7 separate regions of the Homo sapiens genome follow, and all the other regions are reported to be linked to region 6. The links are microRNA targets in miRTarBase. Many come from high-throughput screens and were not tested one by one. Region 6 holds a microRNA gene; each other region holds the end of a gene's coding sequence. Distances are between the middles of the regions.

What was found. Region 6 holds the annotated microRNA hsa-miR-6875-3p (AUUCUUCCUGCCCUGGCUCCAU, at 1,105-1,126, opposite strand). A microRNA usually pairs through its seed, bases 2 to 8, with sites in the 3' UTR of a target mRNA and lowers its output. Matches are read on the target gene's strand: a 7mer-m8 pairs with bases 2 to 8, a 7mer-A1 pairs with bases 2 to 7 and ends in A, and an 8mer does both.
Region 1: the mRNA of ZNF200 is a reported target of hsa-miR-6875-3p. Seed matches in the 3' UTR shown: 8mer at 3,462-3,469.
Region 2: the mRNA of CCBE1 is a reported target of hsa-miR-6875-3p. Seed matches in the 3' UTR shown: 7mer-A1 at 727-733 and 7mer-m8 at 1,391-1,397.
Region 3: the mRNA of ARSL is a reported target of hsa-miR-6875-3p. The part of its 3' UTR that is shown has no 7-base or 8-base seed match.
Region 4: the mRNA of ANKRD49 is a reported target of hsa-miR-6875-3p. The part of its 3' UTR that is shown has no 7-base or 8-base seed match.
Region 5: the mRNA of PHLDA3 is a reported target of hsa-miR-6875-3p. The part of its 3' UTR that is shown has no 7-base or 8-base seed match.
Region 7: miRTarBase lists KDM7A as a target of hsa-miR-6875-3p. Seed matches in the 3' UTR shown: 7mer-m8 at 622-628, 7mer-A1 at 1,992-1,998 and 7mer-A1 at 2,086-2,092.

Annotation. Positions count from the first base shown.
Region 1 is chr16:3,220,250-3,224,315 of GRCh38, forward strand. It overlaps ZNF200 (zinc finger protein 200), which reads right to left. Exons shown (of 5, transcript NM_198088.3): 5 at 2,076-4,066. The coding sequence ends at 3,643. Among named protein-coding and RNA genes, the nearest start is that of ZNF200, 13 kb to the right of the region's middle.
Region 2 is chr18:59,432,500-59,436,565 of GRCh38, reverse strand. It overlaps CCBE1 (collagen and calcium binding EGF domains 1), which reads left to right. Exons shown (of 11, transcript NM_133459.4): 11 at 425-4,066. The coding sequence ends at 658. Among named protein-coding and RNA genes, the nearest start is that of LMAN1, 75 kb to the right of the region's middle.
Region 3 is chrX:2,931,473-2,935,538 of GRCh38, forward strand. It overlaps ARSL (arylsulfatase L), which reads right to left. Exons shown (of 11, transcript NM_000047.3): 11 at 3,049-3,718. The coding sequence ends at 3,360. Among named protein-coding and RNA genes, the nearest start is that of ARSD, 4.2 kb to the left of the region's middle.
Region 4 is chr11:94,497,852-94,501,917 of GRCh38, forward strand. It overlaps ANKRD49 (ankyrin repeat domain 49), which reads left to right. Exons shown (of 3, transcript NM_017704.3): 3 at 220-1,727. The coding sequence ends at 681. It also overlaps a transcript of MRE11 not described here. Among named protein-coding and RNA genes, the nearest start is that of ANKRD49, 5.9 kb to the left of the region's middle.
Region 5 is chr1:201,465,008-201,469,073 of GRCh38, reverse strand. PHLDA3 (pleckstrin homology like domain family A member 3) reads left to right here. Exons shown (of 2, transcript NM_012396.5): 1 at 1-733; 2 at 2,896-4,066. The coding sequence starts at 288. The coding sequence ends at 671. Among named protein-coding and RNA genes, the nearest start is that of PHLDA3, 2.1 kb to the left of the region's middle. RefSeq lists enhancers at 1-215, 437-576, 647-706 and a silencer at 57-366.
Region 6 is chr7:100,865,140-100,869,205 of GRCh38, reverse strand. It overlaps MIR6875 (microRNA 6875), which reads right to left and starts at 1,170; the gene lies at 1,099-1,170. SLC12A9 (solute carrier family 12 member 9) reads right to left here. Exons shown (of 14, transcript NM_020246.4): 14 at 2,196-3,487. The coding sequence ends at 2,601. TRIP6 (thyroid hormone receptor interactor 6) reads right to left here and starts at 1,819. Exons shown (of 9, transcript NM_003302.3): 1 at 1,600-1,819; 2 at 1,218-1,345; 3 at 973-1,098; 4 at 340-711. The coding sequence starts at 1,708. RefSeq lists an enhancer at 1,032-1,131 and silencers at 1,572-1,721, 2,082-2,171.
Region 7 is chr7:140,087,450-140,091,515 of GRCh38, reverse strand. It overlaps KDM7A (lysine demethylase 7A), which reads left to right. Exons shown (of 20, transcript NM_030647.2): 20 at 328-4,066. The coding sequence ends at 422. Among named protein-coding and RNA genes, the nearest start is that of PARP12, 27 kb to the right of the region's middle.

The DNA.
Region 1 (4,066 bases), not on the chromosome of region 6:
AAAATAAAAATAAAAAAATTAGCTGGGTGAGGTGGCATGTCCCTGTAGTCCCAGATACTTGGGAGAGTTAGGCGGAAGGATCTCTTGAGTCTACGAGTTCAGGGCTGTAGTGAGCTATGATCACAGCTCTGTACTCCAGTCTGCGCAACAGAGTGAGACCCTGTTTCTTAAAAAAAAAAAAAAAAAAAAAAAAAAAAAAGATGTGGTCTCAGTAAGTTGCTCAGGCTGGTCTCTAACTCCTGGATTCAAGGAATCCTCCCACCTCAGCTTCCAAAGTAGCTGGGACTACACGCACATGCCACCATGCCGTCTTGATAATGTTTTTTAAATTTTAAAAATAATTGTTTTTTGAAATGGTATCTCACTCTATAGCCCAGGCTAGAGTGCAGTGGCATAATCTCGGCTCACTGCAACTCCACTTCCCGGGTTCAAGCAATCCTCCTTCCTCAGCCTCCTGAGTAGCTGGGACTACAGATGCCTGCCACCGCAACTGGCTACTTTTTGTATTATTAGTAGAGATGGGGTTTCACCATGTTGGCCAGGCTGGCCTTGAACTCCTGACCTCAGGTGATCCACCTGCCTTGGCCTCCCAAAGTGCTGGGATTATAGGCGTTGAGCCACTGCACTCAACCAAATCTTTTTTTTTTTTTTTTTCGTAGACAGGGTCTCACTATGTTGCCCAGGCTGGTCTTGAACTCCTGGCCTCAAGCCATCCTCCTGATTCGGCTTCCCAAAGTGCTGGGATTACAGGTGTGAGCCACTGCGCCTGGCTTATTTTCTGTAGTTACTACTGGAATTGGATCTTTGGTCTCTTACATTTTCCAACTCTCGCTCTACCGCTATATTGGGAAACTGTTCACTGTTGTTTACTTTTTCAACTTAACTGGTGATCAGGCTCCTTAGGTAACAGAACTTACTCATCCAACAACTTCCCAGGGGCTCTCGTGTTTGGGGGCGGCCCCTGGTCCTGGTCGGGGCGCTCCTCTCATTCCCACCCAGCCTCACTATTGCGGAAGGAAACCCTGCGGCCCATGTCCTGCCCTCTGGGACACTGGGTGCTGATTGACGGCAACCCTGACCGTGGGCACCTCCCCAGTCCAGGAGATGGTGTGGGTTGTGGTGGCTTCACCCACCTACACTTAAAAAAACAAAAAGCTACTCAGGAAGCTGAGGCAGGAGGATTGTTTGAGCCTAGGAGGTGGAGGTTGCAGTGAGCCAAGATCGTCCCACTCCAGCCTTAGCAACAGAGCCAGTCTCAACTAAAGAAAAAAGTGTCTCAGGTACCGTGCCATGGCTTCATGAGAACTGATGTAACCCCCGACTCTGGGCAGGGCTGCCAAAGAGTGAGAGAGTGGAGACTCTCTCTCACCACTCACTTCCTGGCAGCTACTTTTCTGGATGCATGGGCAGGTCCCCTACACATGAGATGGTGTGGGTTGTGGTGGCTTCACCCACCTACACTTAAACGAAAAGCTACTCAAGAGGTTGAGGCAGGAAGATCGCTTGAGCCTAGCAGGCGGGAGGTTGCAGCGAGCCAAGATCACCCCACTCCAGCCTTATCAACAGAGCCAGTCTCAAAGAAAAAATTAACTGTCTCGGGTACTGTGCCATGGCTGCATGAGGACTGATAAAATACCCGACTCTGGGCAGGGGTACCAAAGAGTGAGTGGAGACTCTCTCTCACCACTCACTTCCTGGCAGCTACTTTTCTGGGTGCACAGGCAGGTCCACTGCACATGGTAACAGCCTGCCGACTCTGGAAACACAGTTCAGGATCCCAGTCCTAGTGCACTGGTCAGACTTTCAAATAAGCGAATAACGTTGTGGGCAGCCTGTTTTGTTCGCTTTGCTGGCTTTACAGGGTACTTCCTGTTGGCCTGAAATACAATGTTGGTAAAGACAGTTTTTCTGTGGCCTTTCTCTGTTGTGGAGGATTTGTTGTTTTTAAATTACGATTCAGGACTGAACTGTATCATAGAATGTCCTTCTTTCAGAATGCTTTGTGCCAAAACAAGAAACCTCAGAATTACATGTTAATAACAACAAACAAAACAAAAAAGACCAATAGGCAGAAGGCAAGAAACAAAAACTATTCTTTGTAGATGGTGTCATTTTACCAAAAGTTAACAGAACTAAACCAACAAACTATTGAAAATTAACAACAGTGAGATGACTATACAAATATATAATTAAAAATAACTTTCCCATGTAAAAGCAATAATCAACTATAAAAATATAATGGAAAAAACTACAATAACAAAATTGTGTAAAACAAGTGAAGAAAATTAGAAAAATTTTCACAGGAATATAATACTCTAATAAATAGAAAGGCATGTTTCTGGATGGGAAACATACACTATAATTTTTCCCAAATAGCTTATAGGATTTCTTTATTCCAATCAAAACACCAATGTATAACTTTTGGAAACCTAAAGCAAGCAAAACTGAAGAATCCCTAAATCGCACCACACGATCAGTCCGTAAAGGCACCGCTGGCCTTGCTTCTAGGCAGAGGACAGGAAGGTATGGATATCAAGAGGCTGAAGACAATTAATACCCACTACAATGAAGACACCTGGAAACCTGTCTCTTGAGAGGCAATGTGAGCTAACCACTGGAGACGTAATTTCTAATCATACAACACTTTGCCTTGTGAGGTAGTGACCACCCCATTGCCAAAGGTCTGATGACAGCATAGAGGGGACCTAAGCATATGGTAAGGTTATTGATGAGACATGGATCCAAGCCAACTTTTTCCTGCCTCCAGGTTGACCCTTCCTCTCTGGGTCTTGGGGTTTCCTTCGTAGCACATGAGATCTGGGCTCAACAGAGGGACAAGATTCTGAAGAGCTTTTCTAGTGGTGGGGCTGGATGGCCCTGCCTGAGTAATCCAAACTTCTTTTAGCAAGGGAGAAGCATGAGACGGCTGCTGGAGAGATCAACAGCAGAACAAAATACAATAAGAACAGTAGACACCTAAATTATGTTGTGAAAAGGAATCTGTAAAAGTCAGTTTTATCACAAATTGTAAATATTATTGAAATTGATTGCAAATTTAGATCACATACAAATGAGAGTCTGACATTCAACTGTTTTCCTATATTCCAAAGTAAACAATTCCTTTCAACACTCAAGACTTAAACAGGTATTCTTAGAGGGTTATATGAATTGCTATCAGAAGCTGTTGGCTAACAAGCCAGTAATTTGGTTCTTTCACCAGAACACAGTTCCAGATAAGCATCTTTGCACTATTTCTCAAGTATGAATCCCCATGTGGGGGGAAAACGGATATACTTTCAATAGACACAAGTCACTCTTTGCCTTCCAAGTAAGCAGACTCCAGATTCATCTTCAAAGTGTTGGGAAAGGGGATCTGTGACCTGTACATTATCATATAACTTCAAAAAGGAAAGCTCCTTAGTCCAAAAAGCCTAGATGCTGAGGTATAGCCCTTGAAATGTTTTCTTCCCTGTGAATTTTCTAGCAATTTGAGGTTTTAGCTAAGATGGGCATTTATCCAATTTTGGCAATAATGAGATTTTTACACATTTATACCTTTTTAGGCAGCTTGGGAATTCAGAACTACTTATGAAAGCTCTCAGGTTGAGGCAGCACCATCAGACCCAGAAAGGGTTCCCAGTATTACTTCTGCTTTCGGGTCTTACAGGCTGAGTGGGTTTTCTCATGCCGGGTACAGTTTGACAGCCGACCAAATCTTCTCCCACATTTTTTGCAACCATATGGTCTCTCAGCCTCATGACTCTGCAGATGAAGCACAAACTCCTCATTCTTTGGGAAGGTTTTCCCACATTCTGGACACTTAAATATCTTCTCCCTTATATGGATTCCTTCATGACGACTCCGATGAGAATTCTGACGGAAGTTTTTTCCACACTGAGAACAGGAATAAGGTTTCTCTCCTGTATGAATTCGCTCATGTTTATTGAGGTTTGTTTTATGATTGAAGCTTTTCCCACAGTGATTACAGTCATAGGGTTTTTCTCCAGTGTGGGTCCTCTGGTGGGAAATGAGGTAAGAACTTTCATTAAACTGTTTCCCACACAGT
Region 2 (4,066 bases), not on the chromosome of region 6:
ACAGATGGGGAAACTGAACCACAAGAAATTAAGATGACACAGCTAGTAAGCGGCAGAGATGAGATTCAAATCCAACAGAACCCCAGTCTCTTAACCACTGCTCTGCTGCCTTCATAAGCATCTTCCAGACTGCTTTGGAAAGTAACCTAGGAGAGTTATTCTTATATCCTTTCCTCTACTGGATTTGATAAAGCGTTAGGAGGGAGGAAAGGTGAATACATCACCAAAGCTCAGCTGAGAAGTGACAGAATTAGAAAACAATATGGAGGACCCCCAGGCTCCTGTAGCAGTCCTCACATTGGCTCCATTTGGGGCACAGAGTTATTGAGAAAGTAGTTGCCAGCAAGCAGCAGGTCAAGTCATGGAGCCCCGGAGGCCATTGCTGTCTGTCGTATTCTAGCTTTGATTCCTCCCATGTACACAGGGACCCCCTGGTTCTTTCGACTTCCTGCTACTTATGCTGGCTGACATCCGCAATGACATCACTGAGCTGCAGGAAAAGGTGTTCGGGCACCGGACTCACTCTTCAGCAGAGGAGTTCCCTTTACCTCAGGAATTTCCCAGCTACCCAGAAGCCATGGACCTGGGCTCTGGAGATGACCATCCAAGAAGAACTGAGACAAGAGACTTGAGAGCCCCCAGAGACTTCTACCCATAGCACATCCCAACACCGTCACGCCAAAGGAAGAGAAAGATCAACTCACCTGCAGTTAAACCATCTAAAGAGAAGAAAGACCACTGGAGACCTAGAAAACATACATTTTTCTCTTCTCTTCTCCTGACGTCTCTCCACTCCTCTTCTTCCAAATACGATGCTATTTTCAGAGTCCCCTCCTAGGCCTGCAGACATGAGGGAGTGAATGATTGATTTACCTGCTTCTCACTAAGAGTCCATTGGGGTGGTTTGCATTGTAACTTTTCTTTTACATCCTATTTTTCCAGGAACTTTGGATTTAAGTACTCTCACAGTGTCTTAAATCATAAATTCTTGAAGTTAAATTTGGCAGAGTATCAAAAGGGGGAAAATGACAAAGTGAGCTCTAAGAAAATGTGAGGCTACTTCTAAGATGTGTGTTCACAATAGACCATAACTCCTCTAGTATCAAAATTGGGGCTCTTCAGTTAAAAAGGGGTGGGGAGGACAAACGTGTCGATGTGCTTTGGTGGAGAATTTTTTCCTTGTGCTTCTAGTAGACTTTAAATATTGTATCCCTTTGTCAAACCTTGTTTCCCAAATTCAATTAAAGAGAGGAGAGAATTGAATGGCGTTTAGAGAAGATAGAAAAGAATCACAGTCATATATTTACTGTTATATAGATTGCCACATTCTAAAATTCAAATACGGTGCTTAAGGTTTCATGCCATGCTTATCTGTAAGTATCCTATTTAGGGAAGAAGATTAAACTCTCTTTTCAAAAAAACAAAGTGAAATGCCTGGATTCACATTAAAACAATGGGCTCTCGTTTGCTATAATATTTTAAAGCTGTTTAATCAACAGTGGAGTCTGCTCTATAAATATAGATTATTTGTTCAATAAACTGGCTGAGCTTAGAGAGAGGTGCAGAATTCCTGGTTCTGAGCAGGTGCCCAGAAGGTACCATTAGGTGCCATGATCCAGGCTGAACCAATATACAGTGGGGCTGAAGTCTGCAAGGAGGTTGCTGGCTTGGGCTGACCTCACTAATGCCATCAGCAGCGGTAGGTAAATTTTTTCTCCTTGGGTATTACAAGTTTTTGTCTGGAGCCAACCAAGCTTGCCACCAACATATTGAGAGTAATACACTATTGAAAGTTATCTTGGATGGGGAGAAAAAAAAATAGTGGTTTTCCTTGTTTGCAAAAACTTCCTTCCTATTCTCATTTTTTCTTAATTTTCTTTAATTTAGTCCAAGTTCCAGTTCTTTTAGGCCTTCTCTTTGATTTATTTTCCCCTGCATGTGAGAAGCAGTTCAGAAAAAGGTCTATATCTCCACCTCCTAGTGAGTTAGAGTGTTTTCTCAGAGCACCTCTGGGTGGCAAAGGGAAGCATGTTCCTGCCAAGGTTTGCTGTGGATTCAGAAGCACCAGGAGCAAGAGACCAGAAGGATGATCTGCTCCTTTGTAACGTTGTTGAGGGCCCTCTTGTTTCCAATGAGCAGCTTATAGGTTACTCACAGTCCACTTTCTCACTGGACACACAAAGTGGCTCTTTATCTACCTTTGCGGGAGATTTTCACTCTCCTGCAAATGATCGTTCTCACACTCATATTAGCTCATGTTGGAATTTCCCATCCTGCCATGTCCTTTCCCATTTCTTTTTGGCTTTTTTGCCTCCACCTTTTAGCCCACATCATTTAACTCCACTACTGTGAAAGCTTGCTTAAAGAAAATCCCTCTTGGCCGGGTGTGGTAGCCCACGCCTCTAATCCCAGCACTTTGGGAGGCTGAGGCGGGGAGATCACAAGGTCAGGAGATCGAGACCAGCCTGACCAACATGGTGAAACCCTGTCTCTACTAAAAATACAAAAATTAGCTGGGCGTGTTGGCACACACCTGTAATCCCAGCTACTCAGGAGGCTGAGGCAGGAGAATTACTTTAACCTGCGGGGGGAGCCTAGATTGCGCTACTGCACTCCAGCCTAGGCAACAGAGGGAGACTCTGTCTCATTAAAAAAAAAAAAAAAAAAAAAAAAAGGCCGGGCTTGGTGGCTCATGCCTGTAATCCCAGCACTTTGGGAGGCCGAGGCGGGCGGATCACGAGGTCAGGAGATCGAGACCACAGTGAAACCCTGTCTCTACTAAAAACACAAAAAATTAGTCGGGCGTGGTGGTGGGCGCCTGTGGTCCCAGCTGCTCGGGAGGCTGAGGCAGGAGAATGGCGTGAACCTGGGAGGCGGAGCTTGCGCTGAGCCGAGATCGTGCCACTGCACTCCAGCCTGGGCGACAGAGCGAGACTCTGTCTCAAAAAAAAAAAAATATCCCTTTTGTTGTGTTTGAATGCCACCTTTCAGTCTTCTTCCTTAAGAATGTTAGGAAGGGGCTTTGCAAACCTCTAGTGGCAACAGTCTTCCTTCCCTTCTTCCTACCACGTTGGAAATGCAGGACTCATGTCAGTCAGCATGTGACCGAGTCTTTCATGAACACTTTGCTCCTCTATGTCTCATTTATGCAAAATTCCTGGTGACTCTCCACTAACATTTTTAAAGTGAAAGCAAACTTTCACTTTAAAAAAAGTGAGCGAGAGGATCCCTTGAGCCCAGGAGTTCAAGGCCAGTCTGGGCAACATAGCAAGACCCCATCCCTAAAAAAAAAAAAATAAGTTTTATTAAATGTGGCACTTTCCCCTAGAAGGGCAGTAACCCCAGGAACCAGTCTGCCTCTTTTCGAATAAAGGAGACTTTTTAAAAAGAAAAAATTTCTTTTTAGGGTGGGGTGCTCTTTATCTAGCATCTTTCCTTCCTCCTTCTCTCTGCAAAATTCAACATTCATGACAGAGGGCCACACCAACCACGGGTTTATAGAGAGAGGAACTGAACAGCTGTTGATTCCCATCTGGAATATATTTAATGTTTGCCTGCTTGTGGAGCATGGTATTTAAAGGGTGTGGATGGATGAATGTTTAAAAAAAAACACACAAAACTATGCACAAGCTGTATGAGAGATGGCTAGGTCCATCTATGATTTTTTTTAAAAGAAGAATTTTAATACCTTTTCTTTGACAGTGAACTGTATTTAGAAATATGATCTTTATTGTGAAATGCTCATAAAATGCAACCAAACTGCATGTTTGGCCATAGGCTAGAATAATATATTAAAAGAATTAATGGAAAGTAGTATTGTCTGGGTTTCATGAAACTATTCCAGATAATATTCTCCAGCAAAACTTATGGTAACCTGTATTTTATAATGTCAATCTGCTGGACCAAGTTAATTTAGAAAATAATTTTTAATCCTCAGATTTTCAAAACTTGGACTACTGCAAGACTGATATGTACTTTTTATGCCCAAATCATATTTTTCAAAGATAGGACATCATAAGGCATCATTATTTCTAATGTATCTTTTAACTAGATAGAAAAAGCTTTA
Region 3 (4,066 bases), not on the chromosome of region 6:
CTTTGGGAGACTGAGGGGGAAGGATTGCTTGAAACCAGGAGTTTGAGAACAGCCTGCGAAACACAGAGAGACCCTGTCTCTACAAAAAAATTTTTTTAAGTTAGCCGGGCATGGTGGTGTGCCTGTAGTCCCAGCTATTTGGGAGGCTGAGGTGGGAGAGTCATCTGAGTGCAGGAATTTGAGGTTGCAGTGAGCTGATTGCACCGTTGCACTCCAGACTGGGTGACAGAGCAAGACCCTGTCTCTAAAAAAATTTAAAAAAGAACTTTTTTATCTTTGAGGGCTTCCCAACTGGGATTCCTTGCTGAGCCTCTGTCATGCAGATGGAGAAGGCCAGGCCGAGGCCTGGAAGGAGGGGGGCAGGAGACAGCCCAGAAGCAGTTCTGCAAGGAGGTTTAGCAGGGGTGGCGCGGAGATTTGATCCTTGGAAGAAATCCTATGCTGCTGGGAGTTGAGATTCCTGAGAACTAGAGAGAAAAGAACTTTGGGTGCCCTTAGGTAAATTATGTAAACACACTGAGCTGTCTTGGGTGCCCAGGATTTGGAAATGGGGCCTGGGGGCAGTAGGAGCTGGTGCTCCAGAAGTCATATTTGCGGGAGGTTGTGGGGATGGAAAGGGTGGGTAAGCCCTGACCCTGAGGGTCTCACATGACTTTCAGCACATGGAGCCTCCATGGGGACTTTGGCTTCAAAGCCATCAAGCTCAAGAGTGTGGGCAAGTGTGGAGACAGAGGTGACTCTCCCCAGTGGATGCTGAAGAACTTAAAGGTGACTCTGTGGGCCGGGAACATCGGGCACAGCTGACCCAAAGTGCTGGTCTTGTTCCATAAGCCATGGCTATGGGGAAAGCCATAGGGGTTAACTGGTTCTTCCTGCCATCCCTCCCTCCCTTTCTTCCTTTTTCTTTTTGCTTCTTTGCTTTCCTTCCTTCCTGCCATTTTTTCCTTCCTTTCTTTTTAGAGATGAGGTCTCGCCCTGTCGCCCAGTGGCACGATCACAGCTCAGTGTAGCCTTGGACACTTTGGGAGGCCAAAGGCTCAAGTGATCCTCCCGCCTCAGCCTCCCAAGTAGGTGGGACTATAGGCACGTGTCACCACACCTAATTATTTAAATGTTATGCGGAGGCAGGGTCTCGCTATGTCACCCCAGCTGGTCTGAAACTCCTGGCCTCAAGCCATCTTAGTGCCCTAAAGTGCTGGGACTACAGATGTGAGTCACCGCACCTGGCCTACTATTTCTTTCTTGACCCAAGAGAATTGGCTGGAGATGGATTTGACTTTTTGGTCTGTATGCACAGCCTGAATTCTTGGAGGCTGATGTGGATTGGATAATTTGAGGACATGTTCTTGAGGCGGTGACAAGGTGGGGCATTGCTCGTCACATACCTAGGCTTGGAAGAGTGGGAGGAGGGACCTGTTGCTTGAATCTGGAGACAGAAAGAGCTATTGGAAAGACCTCCTTACTCCCAGGGGAGAATGTGCTGGGGACTGAATTGTGTTGCCTTCAAACTCACAGGAATAAGGTTTTTATTCATCCTTTAAAATGAGGTCACAAGAGTGGGCCCTATTCCAATAGGAGTGGGGTCCTTATAAGAAGAGGAGATTAGGGCCGGGTGCAGTGACTCACGCCTGTAATCTCAGCACTTTGGGAGGCCAAGGTGGGCGGATCACTTGAGGTCGGGAGTTCTAGACCAGCCTGGGCAACATGGTGAAAACCCACCTCTACTAAATAATACAAAAATTAGCCGGGCATGGTGGTGCACGCCTGTAGTCCCACCTACTCGGGAGGCTGAGACAGGGGAATCACTTGAACCTGTGGCAGAGGTTGCAGTGAGCTGAGATCACGCCATTGCACTCCAGCCTGGGCAACAGAGCAAGACCCCATCTCAAAAAAAAACAAAAAACAAAAAACAAGAATCAGAGATAGGACACAGACAGGCACAGAGGGATGACCGTGTGAAGACATGGGAAGAAGGCAGCAGCTGTGAACCGAGAAACAGGTTCTCCCCAGACACAGCTTCCGTCACGCCGTGGTCTTGGACATCCAGCCTCTAGAACTGCAAGAAAGAAATATTCTTGATGATACCCAGTTTATGGTATTTTCATTCTAGCAGCCCAGACAATTAAGGCGCAGCCTGATTATGCAATGACCTTGCAGCTCAGAGCTGGGGCGAACACTTCCTGCACAGCGCGGCTTCCACAGCCAGAGTTTGCCCAAATCACCTGGGGCATTGGAGACAAAGGAAAACCACTTGAAAACAGTTCCAACGGGAAGCACGGCTCATCCTTGTGGCCGTAAACGATAAACAAACACTATAAATGGGCACCACAGACAAAGCCACATCAGTGCCAGTTTTTATCTTTGGGGCCTATCTCCTGTTCATGTGCAAACCTGTAGGTCACAGAGACACCTTTGCTGGGACTTGTGCTGTTTTGGGCTACAGGGCAGCCTCTTCCAGACTGAGCTGGGGTCCATTGACAGACTCCTCCCCGACTGCAGGAGATACTTTGCCTCTCCAGTTTGGTGTCTGAGTGATCATTCAACGGTGCATTATTAATGTTTGTTTGTTTATTTATTTATTTTTGATGAGACAGTCTTGCTCTGTCACCCAGGCTGGGGTGCAGTGGTACGACCTCAGCTCACTGCAACCTCTGCCTCCCGGCTTCAAGCAATTCTTCTGCCTCAGCCTCCTGAGTAGCTGGCATTATAGGCGTGTGCCACCACACCTGGCTGCTGCTGCTGCTTTTTTTTTTTTTTTTTTTTTTGATAGAGACAGGGTTTCACCATGTTGGTCGGGCTGGTCTCGAACTCCTGACCTCAAGTGATCTGCCTGCCTCTGTCTCCCAAAGTGCCGGGATTACAGGCGTGAGCCACTGCGCCTGGCCAGTGTTTATTGTTCATTTCTACTTTCTCTTGCCTTTTCCTTTGTTTTTCACAGGGGGAAACTATTCATCCTTATGCAAATAGATATCTTAACATGACACTGAAGTTTGTTTCATTTTTTTGTTTTCTTTCTTTTTTGAGACAGGGTCTTGCTCTGTTGCCCAGGCTGGGGTGCAGTGGTACAATCATAGCTCAGTACAGCCTCCAACTCCGGTGCTCAAATGATCCTCCTGCCTTAGCCTCCTGAGAAGCTAGAACTACAGGCGTGTGCCACCATGCAGGCTAATTTTTTTTTTATTTTTGTTTTGTAGAGCTAGAGTTTCATCATGTTGCCCAGGTTGGTTTTGATCACGGGAGTGATCCTCCTGTGGTGGCCTCCTAAAGTGCTGGGATGACAACCACCATGGCCAGCTGGTTTGTTTCAATTTGAGTGACAAAATTTAGGAATCGGGGCTCCAGCTTTTCACTGCAGACATTTATTGTGGGTCATCTTCCCTAAGGCACCAGCAGAGGGGGAACGGGCCACAGCAGGGCTGCAGCCACGGTCTCCAGATGTTGCCCAGCCTGTCCAGCTGCAGAGGAACTGGGCTGAGTGTCCGCTGGTGTTCCCACACCGCCTGCTGGACTCGTTCCATCACCTGATAGAACACGGGCTCTGAGGCTGGTGTGAGGATGTGGGTCTCAGAAGGGTCTCTTGAGAGGTCAAAGAGCAAAGGTGGATCGTGGTGGACTACTTTTTCCCCAAAGCACGGGCAGACCTTTCTTCCATAGCAGGCACCGGCTCCCTCTGGCTGGAACACAGGCGTCACAAAGTGGACTTTCCACATTGTTCCTCCTGGTGGAAAGATAATCATTACAGAGTTGGCATAGAGAAATAGGGTGCCTTGCTGGAGAATGGCATCTTCATAGGGCTAAAAGGTAGGCCTAACCCAAGCGTCCATCGATGGATGGACAGATAAACAAAACATGGTACATCTTACATGGCATACTCTGCAGCTATGAGAAGGAATGACACAATGACACAGGCTGCAACATCAACGAACTTTCAAAATACTACGCTCAGAGAAAGAAGTTACAAAAGAGCACACATTGCATGATTCCATTCACATTGAATGTCAAGGATAGGGAAACACATAATGACAGGAAGTAGAGTAGTGGTTTCCAGGGTCTGCAGGGTGTGAAA
Region 4 (4,066 bases), not on the chromosome of region 6:
TTAGAAGCAACAAAGTGTAGTTAACACTAACTTGTTCATTCTTAAATCAGTAGTCCTCTCCTCCCCAAAAAGAGATCTTAAATTATTTTCATTTTAAAGTCATCTACTAACAAGTAAGTTTTTATTCAACTTAATTAAATCTAACACCACAAGACAATTTTGTTTTAGTTATTGTTTTGGTTTGAGTTGAGTTGAAAGATTTCTTTTTTTTCTTCTCAGCTTACCACAGTGCGGAGACTCCTTTCTGAAAAGGCCACTCACGTGAACACTAGGGATGAAGATGAGTATACCCCTCTTCATCGAGCAGCCTACAGTGGACACTTAGATATTGTTCAGGAGCTCATTGCACAGGGGGCCGATGTTCATGCAGTGACTGTGGATGGCTGGACGCCCCTGCACAGTGCTTGTAAGTGGAATAATACCAGAGTGGCTTCTTTCTTACTGCAGCATGATGCAGATATCAATGCCCAAACAAAAGGCCTCTTGACCCCCTTGCATCTTGCTGCTGGGAACAGAGACAGCAAGGATACCCTAGAACTCCTCCTGATGAACCGTTACGTCAAACCAGGGCTGAAAAACAACTTGGAAGAAACTGCATTTGATATTGCCAGGAGGACAAGTATCTATCACTACCTCTTTGAAATTGTGGAAGGCTGTACAAATTCTTCACCTCAGTCTTAACAATTCTAGTAATTTTCCTAAGTTTCTAAATACCAGTGCCTCCTGTGTGTGAGATGTATTCCCATAATCAAAGTTGACGTCAAACATCTTACTACAAAAATTCAGTGACATTCATTATAACATTCTTCCAAGTGAATTGCCTGACTTTGATGTCAAAATGTATTTGAAAGTAATTTGCATATATCTTTAATTATTTCTGTGGAGTTTGTGATTTTTTTATCAGAAATAATTTTAATGTGTGTATACTTAAAAACTTGACACGGGTTGTACAGAAACTGGTATTTTTGGTGCTGATACAAGAGAAATGTATTTTTAAATATCCCACATCCTGGATCTTTGTTGGGTATTTAGTATATTGACATATATTTTTATAAGGTGAGGTAACTCAGAACTTAATTTAAAAGTCTTAAATATTCTGATACAATTCAGCTGTCTTCTCTACCTTACCATAGCCAGTTGCTTTCATTTTAAACCAGAGCAAGTAACATATTAGTGACTTGAATCTTCATAAGTTAAAGTAAAAAACAGCAAAAAACCTAGATCTTTGTCTTTTAGAACACAGACCATTTTCAGGAAAGCAGTTAGCTAAGTGTTTAATTCATGAATATTGTATACTGCATCCCCTACCACAATTTACACAATCCTGTGGATAGTCCTACCTCACCCTGGTCAACCTACATGATCCTTAAGCTAATGGCGAATCACGATGACCTTGTAGACATGCACACAACTATACCTTTGTCCAACAGATCATAATATATCTGCTATCCAACTGGTTTTACCTGCCTAATCCTACTGATTTGGGCACTGCTTGTATAGTCTCTCAAGTTCACAGGAAATGTTGATTTTCTAAGGTCCTCATTTTTACAGAGTATACAGGCAAAGTGACAGGGGAAAAGGAATTAGTCTAAGAGTAAGGGGATGATTATTATATTGAGGCTAAAACCACAAAGTGGCTCAGGCTTTAAAAAAAAAACACTGTGGATAATGACAAAAAGCATAAGTAAAAATATTTGAGAAAAATAAAGTACAAGTTTTGAACAACACAAAAGGCATGAATTCATTTTTTACCTGTGTATGTCTTTCTTGGATCCAGAACATTATTCATCCAGCACGCACTTAGTTATTTAACATCTACTCACTCAGTCTCTCCAGCAGCAATTTTGCATTGTCTATCTAGCCCCCCTGTGATTGTTCCCAAAGTTTTGTCTTCTCAACACCACAACACTCCAGGGGAAGGGAACTAAACCAGTTGCTCTTTACTTCAGTTAAATTTTTAAGATGTCCACCAAGGCTTATCTCTTTCAAGCCATCCTACGTAACCCAGTCACCCTAGACTAAGTAATAATGTTATTTAATCAAAGATTAAATATTTATTTTTGCTTAGAACTTATTAGATCATCTCAGAAAAGTCAGAGATAATATATGAACTGAATCATCGTGACAACAGGATCTTGAGAGTTAGTGCTTTAGTTTATGTTGTGATCTCTTCCTAGGGAGATGCTTTGTGGCAGAGGTTGCTTTCTGTTTAATCTGGCCTAAGTTAGTGGCACCAAATGACAGATACAGCTGACAGGCAGTGATGATAGAATAAGACCTTATTTATCCAAGCAGACTGCTGAATGAGGTTGCTTAGCCTGAAAGTCACAGAGCTGATGGCTCCTTTCTCACTTGAGAATGGATTGTACCCATGATTCCATGTAAACTTTCCATTAAAGTATGGAGCCAAAGAAGTCTTGTTTCCAATAAGGACCTAAGATGTGTCTATTCCCTTGTTTTCAGACCTCAACACTCACTCACTGATGCTAGAGAGCAAACTCTACACATAAGACAAATCCCACCCCTGAGGGCAGAATTTGTATTGTCTGCTTCCTTTATACTTTCCAGAGCATTCACTAGACTGCTCTGTGCACAGAAGGCAGTCACTAATCGTGCTTTGAAAGGATTACTTCTACTTTCCAGTTTAGGCCGGCTAAATAGCTCAGTTTACAAACAGAATTTTCTCTAATCTTGGAAAGTCTATACAAAGACTTATTAAAAAATAAAATCTGAGTTTTTCATAACTAAGGGTTTAATTTTGATTAACATATGCTTGAGGAAGAGGTAATTTTTGTGACTGTTCAAGATTCATAGCGTCATTCTTAGGCCTAAAGTGGAACTAGTTGCCTTTGCTTTTATGAATCTTAAATATGCTTTTCCAGGGAGCCTTCCAACCCACAGCCTACCACAGTGGTGGGATTTAGAGTCTTTATACTACAATCTGAAGACATTTATTTGTATTATTTGACATCTATTATGTTATCTAACACTATGCTGGAAAATCATGATCAGAAGAAGCCCAGAGACTATACTGAGATTTATGTCCCATACCAAAATGAAATCTCTGGATCAACTCTTGATTCCTGATCAACACATACACCATCTTCACCCTACCTGCAATGGCTCTAGGAATTTATGCAACTGCCTACAAAATAATATCACCAAATCATTATGTCTTTGCTATAATTAGTTTATCATAAGATGCTCCAGTCCATCTGTAGGATTACTAGATGACCACTCAATTTGTTCAATATGAAATGCTTTCTCTAAAGGATATTTAAGGTCTATCTTTATTAAGTTCAGAAGAGAGTAAACCAAGAAGGATTAAGTGTAGCTGATTGATGTTTTAAATTCCTGGAAATTTCCCTTGGAAACTCCAAAATTTTACTTCTCAGAACCTAAGTGGAAATGATCTAAATCAGTGCCAACACATAGAAACATGGGCCTCATGTAATTTTATGTTTTTAGCATGACTATTTTAGATACCTCATATAAGAGGACTCATGCAATAAGGACAGAATTGCATTTTATGGCACACAAACATAGATAAGCAAAAATCCTAGCAGTTGAAAATCGTAAGAGCCATATTAAAAACAGGTGAAATTAATTTTATATATATATGACAATACATCCAAAATATGAGATATATATTTAAAATTTTTTGAGATGTTTTACTTTTTTTTGCAGTAAGTCTTCAAAATACAGGGTGTATTTTACAGCACATCTGGATTTAGTCACATTTCAAGTTCTCAGCTATGTTTGTCTAATGGCTACTCCATTGAAAGCACAGATCTACATGCCTGAAATCATTCCCTGGAGGCACAGAAGGATGGTTACACAGAGCATTAAACTCTGAGTGAGACAAACTGAGTTCAAATCCTCAGTGCCACCTGTGGGTCACTTTGGGCAAAAAAAAAAACCCCTCGGTTTTCTCATAGGTAAATCAGGGATAATATCTATCTTGTTGTAGGCTAGTTTGTTATTTAAATGTAAAAATCATATGGTGTTATTTATTTTGTCAATTTCTTTAATACTTTAAAAATAAATATCAATATGAAATACATCG
Region 5 (4,066 bases), not on the chromosome of region 6:
CGGAGGCATCTGGCAGAGGCGGGTCGGGCTGGGCCAGCTGGGGTAGAGCGGAGGAGCGGGTGCCGGCTGAAGCGGGGCGGTGGGCGCGGAGCGCGCTGGGGGCACCGACACCACCTCACCGGCAGCCGGGTGCTGAGGGCCGCGGTGTGGGTGCGCGGAGCAGTCAGGGCGCAGGTGGGCAGCGCGCACGGCCTGCCAGCCCGGGGCGCCAGAATCCTGCGCTGCGGGGCCGAGAGGGGCGCCGCGCCCGCCGCAGCCTGGAGCTTTCCGCGAACCTCGGGGCGCCCATGACGGCGGCGGCGACGGCTACCGTGCTCAAGGAGGGCGTGCTGGAGAAGCGCAGCGGCGGGCTGCTGCAGCTGTGGAAGCGGAAGCGCTGCGTCCTCACCGAACGCGGGCTGCAGCTCTTCGAGGCCAAGGGCACGGGCGGCCGGCCCAAGGAGCTCAGCTTCGCCCGCATCAAGGCCGTGGAGTGCGTGGAGAGCACCGGGCGCCACATCTACTTCACGCTGGTGACCGAAGGGGGCGGCGAGATCGACTTCCGCTGCCCCCTGGAAGATCCCGGCTGGAACGCCCAGATCACCCTAGGCCTGGTCAAGTTCAAGAACCAGCAGGCCATCCAGACAGTGCGGGCCCGGCAGAGCCTCGGGACCGGGACCCTCGTGTCCTAAACCACCGGGCGCACCATCTTTCCTTCATGCTACCCACCACCTCAGTGCTGAGGTCAAGGCAGGTAAGCCCCCGGGGGACTGGGCCCTCTTCTCTCCTTCCCTCCCTTCTCTTTCCCCTACAGAGAGAATGAGGACTAGCATTCTACTTCAGAGCCGGACATCTTAGGGGGGAGGTTCCTGGGGCCAACTGAGGGCATGGGAGGCTTGGGCCAGTGGCCAACCCAGCAGATCCGGACTTTCCCCTGAGGCACCAGGTTGGCCGGTCCAGAATGTGATCCAGGTGTGTGAGAGGAAGATGGAAGCCCTGGGAGGGGGATACCTGGGTGAGATGAGCCTTCTTTCAAGTTGGTTCAGCCCTGACTCAGGTGGAAGGAAGTAGAGGGAGGTTGGCCTGCACATTGCCCCAGGCTGTGGGCCTCTGCTTTCCACGCAGAGCAGGGCTCCTGGACTTCGGCTTTCTGGCAGCTGAGGACAACCGAGGGTGGGGACGCGGATCGTGGAGGCCGACCCTCTTTCCCTCTAGGTTGAATGCTTGTCATAAAGTTTGAGCATTGAATTGATGTAGAAAGACAGTATCTCCCAGATGGCGAAGGCACCATCAAGGGTTGCAAATAGAGCCAAGGAGTCCGGCTCCCAAGGTGGGGCCTCAGTGGAAGGTGGGGCCTCAGTGGGCCGCCTTGGCTGGACTGGGCCTGAGGGATCCAGCTCCTCCTCTACATATGTGTGTGTGTGTGTGTGTGTGTGTGTGTGTGTGTGTGTGTGTATGGTTTGTTGTTGTTGTTGTTGTTGTTTGAGACAGAGTCTCGCTGTGTCACCCAGGCTGGAGTACAGTCGTGTGATCTTGGCTCATTGCAACCTCTACCTCCTGGGCTCAAGCAAATCTCCTGCTTCAGCTTCCAGAACAGCTGGGATTACAGGTGCCTGCCACCACACCCTGCTAATTTTTGTATTTTTAGTAGAGATGGGGTTTCGCCATGTTGGCCAGGCTGGTCTTGAACTCCTGACCTCAGGTGATCTGCCTGCCTCGGCCTCCCCAAGTGCTGGGATTACAGGTGTGAGCCACTGCACCCAGCCTATATATATATTTTTGAGACAGGATCTCTACCTGTCGCCCAGACTGGTGCAGTAGCATAGTCATGGCTCACTGCAGCCTCAACAGCTTCAACCTCTTGGGCTCAAGCGATCCTCCCACCTCAGCCTCCAGGTAGCTGGGACTACAGGCACACGCCACCATGCCTGGCTAATTTTTTTTTTTGTAGATTTGGGGTTTCCCCACGTTGCCCATGCTGGTTTCGAACTCCTGAGCTCAAGCAATCTGCCCACCTTGGCCTCCCAAAGTGCTAAGATTACAGGTGTAAGCCACCACACCTGGTCCCCATTCTTGACAGTGGGTTTTGAGCCCTAGGGCTCACTGTTAGGAGAGCAAGGGAGCTGAAGGATAGGCAACTGCGCCAGAGGCTGGGCCACTGATGCCAAGGGGTGGGGGCCTAGCTGTCTACCTGCCCCTGAGTGCCAGTCAGGCCTGGCTGGGCCAGGGAAGGAGAAGCTGGAGGAGGGCATGGGGCACTGGGGCAGGGTGGGTGGGTGCAGCAGGATGGGGTCATGAGTTGTTATTTGTGATGTCTTAATCCTCTATGAGCAGTAGGGCAGGGAGTGGGGGGCGGATTTGTGGTCAGGAAGGCCCAGGGGAGGGGCCAGGAATAGAATCTGGAAGCCCTGGCTCTCAGCCCTGTGCCCTCTTCCCCAGATGCCACTCCCTTCTTGTGAGAAGTAGGAGTAGGGCTGAGAAAGGATTTAGCCTTCCTTCTAGCCTTAATTTTTCCAGTGGAAACCTAGATCCTTCTCTCCCCACTACCACCTCCTAGGCGACCTTACCCGCCTGCAGATGTCTTCAACAGTAGAGAGTCCTAGTGAGCCTGGGGCCCCATCTAGTGCCATACCCCACTTTGATGGTCCTGTTAATGCCCTCCCACATTGTAGTTAGGGTTTAGCTGAGAAGTGGGGTATAAGGCAGACCCCCTGTGCTGAGGATTGATCCACATTGATCCCTCAGGTCTTGGGGGCCTGGGAGGAAGCAGATTCCTTTACCACAGTACGTATGCAAAAAATGTTTTCCATGTTTATGGAAAAGGCTGGGAAGTGCTGGTGTAAAATGCCCAAGCTCATAATAGATACTCCTTTCTCCATTGTTGCCCCTGCTCTAACTGCTGTTCTTTCTTGCCAGCTTCGTTGTTCCCTCTGGCTTGTGGGGGCACGGCTGTGCTCCATGTGGCAAGGTGGAAGGCATGGACGTGTGGAGGAGGCGCTGGAGCTGAAGGAATGGACGAGCCCTGGGAGGAGGGCAGAAGGCTACGCAGGGCTGAGGATGAAGATGCAGCCCCTGGATGGTCCCAGACTCTCAGGACATGCCCAGCTCAGGGGCTTCGAGCCACAGGCCTGGCCTCATATGGCATGAGGGGGAGCTGGCATAGGAGCCCCCTCCCTGCTGTGGTCCTGCCCTCTGTCCTGCAGACTGCTCTTAGCCCCCTGGCTTTGTGCCAGGCCTGGAGGAGGGCAGTCCCCCATGGGGTGCCGAGCCAACGCCTCAGGAATCAGGAGGCCAGCCTGGTACCAAAAGGAGTACCCAGGGCCTGGTACCCAGGCCCACTCCAGAATGGCCTCTGGACTCACCTTGAGAAGGGGGAGCTGCTGGGCCTAAAGCCCACTCCTGGGGGTCTCCTGCTGCTTAGGTCCTTTTGGGACCCCCACCCATCCAGGCCCTTTCTTTGCACACTTCTTCCCCCACCTCTACGCATCTTCCCCCCACTGCGGTGTTCGGCCTGAAGGTGGTGGGGGTGAGGGGGGGTTTGGCCATTAGCATTTCATGTCTTTCCCCAAATGAAGATGCCCTGCAAAGGGCAGTAACCACACAGTTTGCTGAGTGAAATTCTTTGCCCACAAAGACCCAGGGCTTGGAGCATCTCTCTCTTTATCCTTAATCTCCCAATTTGCAACCCATTCTGAAGTCTCCAGCCTGGATAGGCAGAGACACTAAAACCCCAGTAGACAGGGCCTTGGTGGTCCTAGGAAGGAGGGCCCATAGATTCTGGACCGAGGGATGTCAAGCTGGTCAGTTCAGTCCCTATGAATGTCTCTTCTACAGGAGGCTACCCTGCCCCTGCTACCCTGGGAGAAGCCTCAGCTTTCTGGGCAGAGTTTGTCTCCCTGTCATTTATACTCTCAGGCTTTATACATTTACACAGTAAGTTCTCCCTCCTGGAGGGTTAAAAGGAATAATTTCAACAGGGTGAAGGCCTGGCACGGTGGCTCACAACTGTAATCCAAGGACTTTGGGAGGCTGAGGTGGGTGGATCACCTGAGGTCAGGAATTTGAGACCAGCCTGGCCAACTTGGTG
Region 6 (4,066 bases):
CAGGCGGATCACCTGAGGTCGGGAGTTCGAGACCAGCCTGGCCAACAAACTGGGGTTTTAGTGAAACCCCGTCTGTACTAAAAATACAAAAATTAACCAAGCGTGGCAGCGTGTGCCTGTAATCCAGTTATTCAGGAGGCTGAGGCAGGAGAATCACTTGAACCCGGGAGGCAGAGGTTGCAGTGAGCCAAGATGGCACCACTGCACCCCAGCCTGGGCAAACAAGAGCAAAACTCTGTCTCAAAAAACAAAAAAGCCCCCTAAAACACCACCAGCCACCCCACCCAGTCGGTGTCCCATTGTCTGTAGGGCCTGAAATCCCAGTTCCCCAGGGCTCACCTGGGGCCCGTGCTCGCCTCCTCTTCCTCTTCCTGCAGGGCCAGAGACCCCAGCAGCTTCCTCTTTGGCCCCTGGCCCTGGCTCTCTCTGGCTCCTATAGCCAGGCCCCCAGACTTCACCTCGGCCTGGGAGAGGAAAGTGGGGGCCCGGGAGGGGCCCAGAGGCCTGAGAGGCTCCCCGCCTGGGTGGGCCGCAGCCCCTCACTGGCTGTGCCACCTTCACTTGCACGGGGAAGGCTGGGCCAGCCGGGGTGCTGGCGGTAGTGTAAGAGGCTGGAGTGGGGCCCCCATAGGGAGACGCTGGGAGCGGCGAGGCTGGATTTGGCTTCAGGGAGCCCGTGCGGTAGGCAGGAGGTGGCGGGGGCTCATATGCCTGAGGAGAAACGCAGGCCAGAAGTCGTAAGCAAGGACCCCACTCCAAGACCCACATTTGTGGAAATGACCCTGGCTGTGGGGAAGCACAGGCTTTTTGCATTTGACAAGGTCCCGTCCTCAAGTGGCTGACATGTTGGTACTTGCAGCCACGCTTCCTCCATGCTGGGGTGCACATTACACACATGGGGGATCGATCAGGCTGGGTCTGAGAGTCCAGAGAAGGGGGCAGGGTGCTGACGGGGAGGAGGGGCAGAGTCACCTGTCGGTCTGGTCGCCGTGACGCATGACCCCGACCCCCATTCAGCTCGGCCAGCGTGCTGCTCAGCAAGTCTATCTCGGCGTCCAGGCTTCCAGGGCGAAGGCCCCCCCTGTCTGCAGGGAGCCCCTGAGGATGGAGCCAGGGCAGGAAGAATGCAAATCACCATAGGCCTTCTCCTGTCCTGGGTCCCTCAGACTCGGTTCTGGGGGATCCCACATGTCCCACCCCACGATCCCGGGTCTCACCTGCGTGTGCTGGAGTACTCCATGGGACCCCACCCACGCCGGCCCCCGATCCTCCGGTCCCCCTGGGGCCTGGTAACACTGCTCAGATGGAAGGGGGCAAAAATTGACCCTGGGGTGGGGCTGGAGTGCTGGGTTGAGGGAAGAGAAATCAAAGGTGGGGTGGCGGAGGACAGGAGGGGTGTATATTTGAGGAGCCACCCTCTCCGCCTCTCGTTACCTCCTCCCCCAAATCTAGGGTCCCAAGAGAGCGCAGGCGGCTGTTCCCCCCGCCTCGGCTTGGGGAAGGGGCAGGAGGAAGCAGCCAGGGCGGGAGGCTGGAGCGGTAGGACAGAGGTGAGCGCCACAGCTGGGTGGCTCTTCTGTCTCACAAGGGCTGCCTTACCTGCTCCGTGGGCCGGTGGTGGCCCCGGGGTGCCGCGGGGGATCGCCCTCCCCTGAGGGGCTCTGGCGGGCTCCGGCTGCTTCGGGGGCAGCCAGGTGGGCCCCGACATGGCCTGGAAAGGGGGACTCCAGACAGCGGTCTTGAAGCCCCGAGCCTCTGGCCTTCACCCCCTCTTCCGTCCCGCACCTCGTTTGGGACTCCAGAAAAGAAAACTTTTTCTGGCTTTTTTTTTTCCTCTTCCTCCCTAATTTTGGGGACGACCACGCCTCCGATGACGTCACCACATTCCTGGGGGAGGGTCACGTGGCCCCCTAGGCCCTAAACTGCCATTTCTCCCTGAGTCAGCCCCCTCCTGCCGAGAGGGGAGGGCTCTCCGGGGGATCCCGAGTCACTGGGGGTTGCGGGCAGCTGGGGATGGGAGGTGCGGGCCCGAGCCAGCCTCCAAGTCCACGGATGCGTCCGGGCCCCGCACCCCAGCCCTGCACGTGGCAGCCTCGCGGCGGGAGGCTGAAGGCTCCGATCTCCACCCCTCTGCAGAGCTCTCCATTCCCACCCCCTCCCTCTCAGCTACCCACCAGCACTGCTCAGCCAGCCTGTAGTGTTTTGGTCTTTTATTCATGGTCAGCAGAGTTAGAAAAATAAAACAGAACGAAAACATCACCACCCCAGTGGGCCGGTGAGTCTGGCCAAAATGGGGAAACTGAGGTAGCCCAGAGTCACAGAGGAGGCCTGGCCCCTAGCATCAAGGCACCAGTGAAGGGAGGCTGCGGACTCCCTCCCCTGCACGGTGGGGACAGCCACCCAGAGTTAGTGTGCTGGGGTCCCTCTGCCAAAGGAGGTGGGCGTGATGCCCAAGCCCAGGATCCCCTTCAAACCTCCCCTGGGCTCCACGTCCCAAGGGCAGGGCCACGGGCCACAGTGGCCTCCTCTTCCTCCTCCTCCAAGGATCAGGATAGGCCGCCTGCCTGGGCCCTCTCTACCTAGCCCTGGAGGCAGGGGCATCACAGATCAGTGCAGGTGACTGGAGTGACCCCATGAACCAGCAGCGTGGGGCCCAGGTCTCGGGTTAGAGTCTCCAGTAGCGCCAGGTAGCGGGGGTATCGGGCGGGATCGGCTGGCGGCCGAGGCAAGTACAGGAAGGTGAGGGCTGTGATGGGGCCCTCAGCATCCCCACCCTCCGGCCCACCCGGCCCTCCTCCTGTGCCGCGCCCCTGCTGGGCCCGAACCAGGGCGTTGGCGCTGCGTGCCAGGGCCTCTGCCTCTGCGTCTCCCCGCCCACTGTTCACAAAGTCCCCTTCCTCCTCCGCCTCGGGTTCCCCAGCCCCGGCCCCCTCGCCCCACACCACCTCCTGCACCTCAGCCCGGATCCTCAGTTGGCTCAGCAGTGCCCGCAGCCGCCCCTCGGCCGCCCCAGGCGCCTCCCGAGGCCCCAGGCACAGGAAGATCCGGAGCCGGGCGCTATGCCAAGCGGGCACCATGCCCAAGATGGTTGCCATCTGCAGCAGGAAGAGGCCGCAGACATCCACATAGCCGGGCCCACCCCGGGGCCGCAGCAGGTTGAGGGGCCACACGTCCACATGGTGCAGCTGAGAGGTGCCCCCAGACCCCCGGCTCAGCCGCTCAGGGGGCAAGGCCCCGCTGGCCCGGGCCAGCACCACATTCTTGTTCATCTTGAGGGCGTCGGCCACCGTGGCCACATAGTCCTGGGGATTGAGGGCCCGGGGGCTCCCAGGAGCCCGGGGAGGAGGGAACAGGGTGCTCAGAGCTGGGGAACTGCCCTCCCTGGTGCTGTCTGCAGGCTCAGAGAAAGCCGGGTCCGTCAGGAAATGGTCCTGCGGTGGAGCGTCATCGTAGAAACCTAGGACCAACGTGTTGGGCTTCATGCCACCTGGGGGCAGAGCGGGGAAGGCAGGAACAGACAGGAGTCAGGCTCACAGGCTAAGTTTACACCACGCTCCCACACACTGACAGCAAGGTGCGTCAGCCATAGGTATGACATTCCCACTGTGTACGGGCTCTTACGGCAACATTCTGCATATTTGCATAAAGACTTTTCATTTTTCCTAAACACTTTCACATGCATTTATTTTATTATCTCAGTGACTAATCTCCTCCACTTAAACAGGCAAAGTTCGCCTTAGGATTCTTGCCACTAATGAGCACTCCAATTCTATGGAGAGGAGGATGCTGTCCACTCCCGGCTTCTAGCGGGGCATCTGTTTCACGGCAGGGGATGCGAGTTTGACTCTGTTGTGCAAACCAGACACCCTGATCAGCCAAGCTCATGACCTGAATCCCCAGGGTAATAGCGTCCCAGACTCTGCAATGGGAAGATGAAAAAATGGACCAGGCAGGGCACCGTGGCTCACACCTGTAATCGCAGCATCTTGGGAAGCTGAGGCACGTTGATCACCTGAGATCAGGAGTTTGAGACCAGCCTGGCCAATACGGTGAAATGCTATCTCTA
Region 7 (4,066 bases), 39 Mb from region 6:
GCAGGGCACAAAGGGGAGAAGCAGGATATGGGGTATTTGTGAAATGGTAGTCAGTTTTGTTGCCTAAGCATAGTGTAATGCAGGATAGGGAAGAGCCCAGGCTGAAGAGCAGGCAGACCAGACTGTGGGAAGCCTTGTGAGTCTTGTGAGGGCCTAGTGTGATGAGGTGGAAGGGTTTTAAACAGCGGAAGTTCAGAAGTATGACTCTGTCCATGCAGAACACCTAAGGGCTTACTTCCCATAAAGAAAGCTCTCCCCGTAGTCTTCCAGGTGCTCTCTTAAGTGTACTTTTCATCATTACTTACACTCCCTTTTGGTGTTTTATAGGTAAACGTCCAAAAAAAGGAATGGCAACAGCCAAACAACGTCTTGGGAAGATCCTTAAGTTGAACAGAAATGGCCATGCACGTTTCTTTGTGTGACAGAGCTGCTGTTGCAGCCATTCTTCCCTTTGGAGACCAGTCTAGGGGTGCAGGAGCCTGGAGCTTCCGCTGTCCCCCTGCCTGGAGCAGTTTGTGTGTATAGTAAGAACACTGCCCGAAGAACAGAATGAACCTGATGCTGCATTTTCACTGTGCCACACCCACTCAGCAATAACCATTTTGGACCTGGTGGGGGAGAGGAAGAAGGAGGGTAGAACCTTAAAAAGAGACCTTGAACTGGAAAGGGTCTCTTGTCAGGGCTTGAATTTTATTTTGTTGTTGGTAGTGTCTTGATGTATTTTCAGTGGTAGGGTAAAGAATTATCAATAATTTATTTAACAGATTTTTTTTTAAAGTTAACAGCTTTTAAATTCTTTTTTTAAAGCTATTTATTTGGAAGATTTCTGGAGAAATATCTCACTAATTTAGATGTAAGAATGTGAAGGTTTTTAAATTATTTTTGATAGTGTGTGTGTTACATGTGGGGAAGGGCCACAGTAACAGTAACTAGTCTGGACTCTTAAATTTGATATTCAGGTTAAAGTCTTAAACAGGGATTTGATGCATTAATTATTTTAAATTAAGATGTATATGAAAATCATTTTATTTTATATATTTCATGTGTTTTTTATAAGCTATTAGCTTCGCTTTTGCTAACATCCAAGGTGCATACTGTTATCCAGGTTGATTACCTTATATCCCACCTTCCCTCTGCACTCCCCATCATTTTGTGATGACCCAGTAAGACTCTTCTCTTTGCAGGGAAACACTTTCGTAGCCAATGTGTAAGAACTCCATGAAAGATCCCTCATTTCTCATTTCGTTTGACATTGTGATTTTCTTCTCAACATTAAAAAAAATAGGCTTTTGCATTTTCATTTCTGCTGATGATATCTGGGTCCCAAAGAGAGCAGCTTTAATATATTTTTCCTACTTGTGGGAAAAGTATTATAAGTTTGGTTAAATTGTCATGTTTATAGTTTTTCCAAGTACATTTGTAACTACAGCAGGCCTTCTTCGTACTGCTGCTGTTGGACAACAGGACTGGCACCTGCTGCAGAGGTTATACCTTATGATACTTTTATGCTCCATACCTGATTTGTTGGGAAATGTTATTTAGGATATTCAAATCTGCATCATAAGCCGTAATATAATAGGATTAATACTACATTAAGTTGTATAGAAGCAAGCATGTTGGAATAGATCTTTTGTGTGTATTTACTTTTTTTATTTCTTAATTTTCTAAAGAATTACTTAAGATATGGATTTGGAGTAAAATGGGTGCTTTTGGCAGTTTCTTCCATCTATCCTAACCTGACCAGTACATATTGAGGTTAAGTATCTGGTTAAACTTTAAGGTATTCATTTATCTCCTTTATGTATGATTTTTACTAAATGCCAGTTTTCATTTGCTTATAGTAGCTTCTATTTTCCCTTTTTTCCATCCATGGCATAAAAATAAGTGATTTCTGGGGGTGGGGCAGAAATGTTCCCAAGTCTGACAATAGAGCATTTTACAAATTCCTACAAAGAAAATATAGGCAAATAGATAAAATTTATTTTTATGGAGAAGAAATATGGCCATATTATGGATTTGTCTTTTTTTTACTCAGCAAGATAGCAGGACTTACCCTTCTCTATTAAGTATCACTTGAATTGCTAAGAAGAAAAAAGTCTGTACCATCATCTTTCATGGTTGCATTCAAATGTATATTTTCAAAGAGAAATACTTCTTGTGTCCCCATTCCAAAATGTCATGGGATAAATATGAAATAGTTTATGAAGTAGCCTTTCTGGTTCAGAGTGACTGGACCAAAGTCTGAATCTTATCTGGGTATCAGGAAAAAGAATTTTTATGGAAATCCTTAGTGTCTATAAACAACCCGTGTAAACCCTGTCTACACTATGCCAAAACCAGTGGAAAGATGGGTAGAGTCATCTTATCTCAGGATGTCAAAAATCTGGGTTTGACTGATTCCCCTACCTTCCCACACAGTATATTCTTGTGATTTTTGCTTTTCTGTAGATCCTGAGTCGGTGTTACAATAGTCATGTTTTTATTTTGGGTTAAGAAATACGAGGTGTAAGAGCTATAATTTCCTTTTCGTGTTATATCATGATCTGGGTTTTCTTTTTTCCTTTACGTTTTTCACAGCTCTTGAGTATTTTCTATTTTTTTCTTTAGTCACAAAAATTAAAATTAAACTTTATTTTTATGAATTAAAATGAAATTTAATTTATTTTTATGAATTAAAATTGTGGCCAGTATCCACTGTGTCCTTAGGCTGAGAAGTACTAATTTGGAGTAGCCCGTGTGTGGAATTCTAAAGTGAAGGTACTGTGGATTCATTTTTAGTAGTTTTAGCCCCTTAATAAGTGGCTAAGTTAGAAAACTTTCAGCGAGGTAATAGAACCACTTGAATAGAATCCATGTGTCTTTTTCTGAATTGGTGAAAATTCGGCCACTGATCCAGTGACTCCTGGTCAAACGTCTTATAACATTACTGGCCATAATGCATCCCTTTATCTCATGGAAATGGCTGAACTTTGTGGTAGCTGCTGCGAGTACCTGGGCTTAACAGTAATAGAGAACCTCATTTATACCATACAGACACAGCAACTTAGGAAGACAGCACTGATAGCATTTAGCTAGTTGTAACCAAATACAAATATGTAAAATTGAGAATTATGATTAACATATGCAACTTTAGTAATAGGAATAGATGATAATTTTCCTGTATTGTTTCAAATAAGTGACTGTTCAGCTGGGATCCATTGGATTATAATTTACAATGTCACATAATATTATGCTTTTCAATATTGATGAGTGATGTAAACAATATAAAGTTGGCAGTTTGTAGTAGTTCAGTATCCTAGAAATACATTGAACTTCATAAGTATCAGTTCATTTTTAAGCATACAGAATTGAAGATTCTGACTGAAATCATAAACTCAGAGGAAACAAGCCCATCTTTATCACTAATTACTTAGCTTGAATACTTTTCTATTTTTAAATAATCCTAATTATTGCCTTTTCAATTATAGTCTACTGTATTTATTTATATGGGATCAACAGGTATTTATCAAACATCTACTGTGTGCCCAGCACTACCTAGTACTGTTGGGGAACATCAATTTGCAGTTGTGGTCTCTGCCCTTGAAGGTATCTTCTCCAGGAAATTAGCAGTATTATTTTCACTTCTAAGCAAACATGAGCAAAAGAGGACCTGTTCATTAAAAAACATGCTGACTTTTTTAGTTTCAACTGAGATATGCCACTGTAGAAGTGAAAGTAATTTCACAATTAAAGAAATGCTTCAACTTGGTAATTAATATGGTCATACAGGGACTTGGTGTAGCATGCAAGGAAGCAGAAGACCTGGGCTTTTGTCGAAGTTCTGCCATTTAGGTATCAGCTGTGTAACCTTGAATAAGTCACTTAACTCTTTCTCTTAGTTTTCTCATTTGTAAATTTGGATTAAAGTGTTTATTATGATAATCAATTAAGAAAATCTCTTAACACTTCATACATACAGAGAACTTATCATTAAGTTAAAACTGGCAATTAATGCACCTTTATATATATTTTTAAATGAAAACTAATACTATTCATGATGTTTATTTTATATCAAATATATGCCCAG